Regions from separate parts of the Homo sapiens genome. Here region 1 is linked to region 2. Evidence: fine-mapped expression QTL. A gene starts in region 2. The other region holds a variant in brackets. All regions are shown on one strand. Distances are from middle to middle.

Region 1 (2,894 bases), 66 kb after region 2:
GAGCTAAATCAGTGAACTTAACAACCATCCCATCTCTCTCAGTGCCTCCCATATTTCTGTGAGTTATAATAACCGGTTCCATAGCCGTAATCCCCATATTGTCTTAGAGCTGATCCTATAGGCAAGTGGGTCCAGTGCTCCCTGCCAGACCATTTGCTGCAGTTCTCCAGTTATCTCTTACGAGACTGGAGTTAATCTTCTAGTCTTTCAAGAACAGCTTATGGGTGCAGGATTCTCTGAGTTCTTACATGTTCAGAAATGTTGGTCTGTTGTTTTTATAATTGAGCGACAGTTTGGCTGGATATAAAATACTTGGACCTCGCCTTCCTCCTCAGCCTTGCAGGCATCACCCCGTCATCCCTTGGCACCCTGTGGCTGTGGAGCATTCTGAGGACGGCCTAAACAGCACCCTCATCAACATGGTCTTTTTGTCTGGCCACCAAAGGTTTTTTAGCTATGAAGTCTAATAATTTTATTAGAGCGTATCTTTTTTTTTTTTTTTTTTTGAGACAGGGTCTCACTCTGTCGCCCAGGCAGGAGTGCGGTGGCAGTGATCTCAGCTCACTGCAGCCTCCATCCACTGGGCTCAGGTGATCCTCCTCCCGAGTAGTTGGGATTACAGGCACATGCCACCACCCCCTGGCCCCAACGCTCGGCCCAGGAAGAGGCCAGCACCCCGACGGCCCCGTGCACGTAGGACCTGTCTGTGTGGCTCCGGGTCTCGTGCAGTGCCCTACCCCCTCTCAGAACCCAGCCGGGGACGTTGCCCCCACCAGGCAAGGTACACTGTGTGGCTCCTGCCGCCTCCAGGGCGTCTCCCCCTTGTCCCCCCCTCATCCTGCCAACCCCCCACTGGGTCTTGCTCTTGGCAGCGCTCCCAGCCCTGTCGAGCTTGGGGGTTCACATACCTCATGGTTTTGCTGAAAATGGAGTTTGTATTTCTCACCCTCGTCAGCTTTGGGGTGGTTGTGAGGTTCTTCTGGGAGGAGTGCCAGCATTCTGCTGCCATCAAGCCCGGGACGTGGCCTCTCGCTAGGCACTAGGGTGCAGTGGCTTCCCTGGGGTGAGGGGTCCCGGGACCCAGCCCCTCTCCTGCAGCTGGGACCTCCCTGTCTCTGCTGCTCTCTGACTGGGGAAGGAGTCGGTCAGAGCTGGTGCGAGGAGCAGCAGGGCAGGGCCGAAGACCACTCTGAGGGGAGGGCTGGAGTCCCCCATCGTGGCCTTAGGAAGAGTGGGAGGTCAGCTGGGTAGGAGCGTGTGGCCCTCACATCCCGGGCCTGTGGGCCTGCGTCTCTCCTGGTTCCAGCTGCAGGTGGGGCACCAGGGGCAGCACTGCCTTGTGGGCTTAAGGAGTGGCCTAACACCTCTCCCAACTCTCACAGGTGCGTGGGACTCATGAACTCACCAATCCCGGGATCGCCGAGGTCACGATCCGGCCAGATCGCAAGATCCTGGCCACCGCAGGCTGGGACCACCGCATCCGCGTGTTCCACTGGCGGA[C/T]GATGCAGCCACTGGCCGTGCTGGCCTTCCACAGCGCCGCTGTCCAGTGCGTGGCCTTCACCGCCGATGGCTTGCTGGCCGCGGGCTCCAAGGATCAGCGGATCAGCCTCTGGTCACTCTACCCACGCGCATGACTCACCCACTCCCTTCCCGGGAGACGAGGAGGGCGGGCAGGGAGGTGGGCATCAGGCCCCAGCCTTGGCCTGAAACCTCAAGGGCCTCTGAGGACCAGCAAGTCATGGCCCAAGGACCATGGAGTCCCCGCTGTCTTCATGAGGTTGGTATTTCCTTTTGTGGAGTGCCTCATCACAGGACGGTGACTCTGGGGGCCAGCCAGAGCCCTGGCCGTCCGAGGCCTGCAGGAGACGTTGGCTTGGGCCTGCTGTGTTGCCAGCTGAGGGTATTTTATAATAAATTTCCATTGCCAAGTTGCAGGCTTGAGGTGGGAGCTCCCTGAGGAGGCCCTGGTCCCCCACTTAGCATCAGTGCCCTCAGACCCCCACCAGGCAGGATGCTCAGCCCCACCCTCACACCTGCTGTTGAATGGGCCACCCCGAGTGTGGGTTTCCTGGGCCAGGCCTCAGGAGATGATAGGCCCCAACCATAGCTGCGTCGATGTCCACATGACCCCTCACCCCGAGGAGGCCAGGAGCTCCCAACACACAGGTTGAGGCCAGGATCAGGATCAGGAAGTAACTGAACTCCCTAAAGAGTGAAGCAGAGAAAGGTGCCTGTGAGGGACGGCAAGGGGGGCTTGCAGCGCACAGGGCCAGGCCAGATGTGGGATCCGGGAGGGCACGCCTGCCCGCAGAGGGTGCAGTGGGGAAGGCGCACAGGGTGCACCTCCAGGTGAGTGCTGGGCAGAAGGCACGAGAGCAGCAAGGGAGTGTGACAAGCACCGCCTCACAGTGGCCAAGGCCACAGTCACAGCTGCGGCTGCACACAGGGTGGCCCCCAGGGCACAACACAGCAAGAGCAGGACTTAGCAGCCAGAGCCTCACACTGCATGCAGCCGGGCCCAGCCTGGCCGGTCGTCTCCTCCTAAAAGCGGGTGTTGATTGGGAAAGAACCATGACCCTGAATATTGGAGTGGGGCCCATGGGCAGATCCAGAGAAGCTGGGACCACACACGCCTGTGTCTGCCCGGATTGCCGGAAGAGCCCCTCTAGCTGAAGGCCCGGGGTGGCCTCCCTTGAGGCAGTTGCCCTGCAAGGCCCTGCCGATGCTCCTTGGGACCCCCACCTGGGCTTCTAGTCCTAGAACTAGACTCGAGTCCAGCAGACCCCCAGGATGAGATACAGAGGGTGACCCTGAGAGTGGCACCAGCCTCCTGCAGGACCACATGGCATTTCCAGGTTTCCAGGCAGAAATCTGAACATGTGTGGGACGGATCG
Region 2 (2,894 bases):
AAGAAAAAAAAAATTTGGACCAAAAAAGGCCTTTTCTGGCTCAGTTGGATTCATTTCTTCCACAGGCCCACTGCCCACTCTGCTGATGGGCGCTGAGCTGTAGACTGAGCTGCCTTGAGGCTGAGGTAAGCTGAATTTGTGGGAACCCCCACCTTTCCCTTGAGGGAGGAAGTTTAAATTATCAGGTCAATTAGGAAAGATACAACCGAAAAAAATCCAAATTTCATTCCCACTTCAAGGAGGCGTTTCCTGGCTCGGTGCCACTTTTATTATTTTTGGCCCAGGCTGCTGAAAGCCCCACAGACCCAGGGAAGGTACAATGTGACCTTTGATTCGCGTTTCAGGGATCAAAGTGAGTGAGTTTGGGTGTAAATGCAGATAACATTTCAGAGAGCTTTCATGAAAGGAGTCACTGGACCAGGGCAGAAAGGGAGCTGGTGTGTTACGTGTGTGTTCCCCTTGAGAAGCGTCACTTTCCGGTGAATCCGGCTGCCTGCCCGTGGCCCCAAGGACTCCTGGCTTGCATCCAGGTCCTTGGCCCACAGGCATCAGATCCTGAGCTGGGGCGCCTGCACCCTCTCCCACCTCTTCTCTAGGCACCGTGAAGCCGAGGAGAGGTGGCGTGGGACGGCTTGTGCAAGTGAGAAGAGCACCACCACTTCATCCTCACCTATCTTGTCCCAGGATCTGGGTGCTGACTCGGCAGGCTTGGGCTGGGCACGGCCCTGTGGGGAGGGCTTGGTAGCCTGCCCTCGCTGTCGTCTCCGGGTCCAGCCTCGGCCTGAGTCGGGAAGCACACAATTATATCCACAACAAGGAGGCCCAGAGGCCCTGCCTGCAGCCCCCAGGTATGCAGGTAGAGGGTCCTCTCGGACTGCCTGCCCCCTGCCTCTGGCGCCCAGCCTGCAGCTACGTCGAACCGGGCCCTAACAAGGTTCCCCGCACTGGCAATGAGTGATGAGAGGCACTCCGCGGGCACGCCGTTCCAGGGCGCTCACGAGGCCCAGCAGCCCCGCTATGCCCACATCCACCCCGACACCTGCAGCCCCCCAGGCTTAGCCCGGCCCCGCAGCAGCCCTCTCGACGCCCAGCAGCACCCCAGTGTCTGGCTGACGCCAGGGCAGTAACGGCGGGCTGAAGCAGCATCGGCCCCTCGGTCTACGCCACAGCCGGGTGCAGATTTCCCGGATCTGAGGGACCGCCGGGCACCGTCCGCTGGGGATCATGAGGGGCAGCTTTGGCCCGACCGTCTCGCGCCTGTACACGCGGCCCCACCTGATCCCGTGGCACTTGGCGCGGCGTGGGAATGGGCGCGCTCTCCCATCACCCACCGCGCGGCACTGCCGCGCCAGCAGGGACCGGGAGAGCCTGCGAGGTAGCGGCCACACGGCATACAGCGCAGGCGCGGCCTGGATGGGAGGAGCGCGTGGAGCGTGCCGGGAGCATGCGCCGGGTCGTACACGGCGGCCGCGCGCACGCTGGGGGCGTGGCTGCGCGATGTAATCGGTCTCTGGACGCTGCGCGGCGCTCCTAGGAGCAGGCGTTCCCGACTCCGGCAAGAGGGTCAGTGTGGAGGCGGGAGCCCGGGCGGCCGGCTTGAACTCCGTGCACGCGGGCCTGGAGCTGCGCCCCTGCGTCTTTTCCCGACTTCTGATCCGCAGAGGGGCACTCGGAGCCCCAGCCTGGGTCGCAGTGCCTTCGGTCTGCGGGCCTCAGTTTCTCGGTCCGCGCCGGGGGTTTGTGGGGGCACCTGGAGACATTTGGGCCGTTCTCGCAGTCTCGGGAAGCCGCGCCCGCTCCTTGCCTGGCCTCACGGCGGCCGATCTCGTTCTCCACTTTCTAGGTGGCGCCTGGACTCTCGCCCTCAGAGGGAGGCCCGTCCCACGGTCTGTGGCTACGGATCCCAGGACCCTCTTCGCGGGCGATTCGCGTAGCCTCAGGTGGGTGGGCTTCTTGTTGCCGTGGGCCTTGTGAGCTCGTATTTCCTGCATGGCGGTTGCTGGGGGGCGGGCGGTGCAGTCGTCTGCACTCAGCTTGCTTTAAGGCTTTGGGCAGGTTTTGTTCTTGGGGCTCCTGGGTCTCCCCAGAGCAGAGAACGGCTCCAGCGTTCCAGGTGCTGCCTTTGGCCTTGTGGGGGCAAACACACATGCGCCGTGGTACCTGCCCCTTTAGGATAGTGCTGTCCAGTCTAGAAGGGCCGAAAGTCTTCTATGCCAGGCAGTGTGGGGAGAAAAGTAGGGGGACCAACAGACTGATAGGCGTGGGAGGGCTAAGGTTCTCAAAATGGTGAGAGTGCGGCCCAGGGTTAGGAAGGCTCAGGCCCAAAGCAGGCCTGGCTGGCTGGTGCAGGGAAGCCTTCTCCCAGACTGCAGGGGACACAGGTGCGCAGGTGAGTGGGCAGGGTAGGGGACTGGGAAGAAGGGAAGGCAGAGATCTGGGTAGCACACTGTGGCTCCCGGGCATGGGGTGTGGTCATTGTGGGCAACCTGGATACCTAACCTTGGCTGGTGGTGGGAGCTGGGCCCTGGATCGGGGTCACTGCTTTTTTAGAGCTCAGTGAGGGACTGGACTGGACTCGACTCACGTCCAGGCCTTAGTATAATCCTGCAGTAAGGTGGGAAGCCAGGGTCATGGGCTGGGCTTTCAGGTGAAGACCCCCCCCCCAGAGGGGGGTCAGACCTGAGGGATTCCAGAGTGTTTGGGTGGTGGAGGTAGGGCCAGTGGCCCTGGCAGGTTCTAGTGCTGCAGGCCACCCTGGGAGGTACCTGGAGGAACTCACCCTGAGGGGGGATGGCCAGCAGATAGGAGATGTGGGATGAAGGTGTGTGCAGGCCTTGTGCTCCCAGTGAGCCGGTGGCGTTTGTGTGTGGGGTGAAGCAGAGAGTTTCCTGGAG

What was found. PIP is the estimated chance that this variant, and not a neighbour inherited with it, causes the effect.
Region 1: its variant is fine-mapped to the expression of GNB1L in whole blood (TOPMed, PIP above 0.99).

The regions. Positions count from the first base shown.
Region 1 is chr22:19,787,449-19,790,342 of GRCh38, reverse strand. GNB1L (G protein subunit beta 1 like) reads left to right here. Exons shown (of 8, transcript NM_053004.3): 8 at 1,383-2,894. The coding sequence ends at 1,634. Among named protein-coding and RNA genes, the nearest start is that of TBX1, 28 kb to the right of the region's middle. The variant C/T (reference allele first, on the strand shown) is at 1,501.
Region 2 is chr22:19,853,489-19,856,382 of GRCh38, reverse strand. It overlaps GNB1L (G protein subunit beta 1 like), which reads left to right and starts at 1,509. Exons shown (of 8, transcript NM_053004.3): 1 at 1,509-1,563; 2 at 1,844-1,940. RTL10 (retrotransposon Gag like 10) reads left to right here and starts at 1,509. Exons shown (of 3, transcript NM_024627.6): 1 at 1,509-1,723; 2 at 1,844-1,940. It overlaps LOC124905080 (a long non-coding RNA gene), which reads right to left and starts at 1,411. Exons shown (of 2, transcript XR_007068005.1): 1 at 671-1,411. RefSeq lists enhancers at 499-978, 2,401-2,894.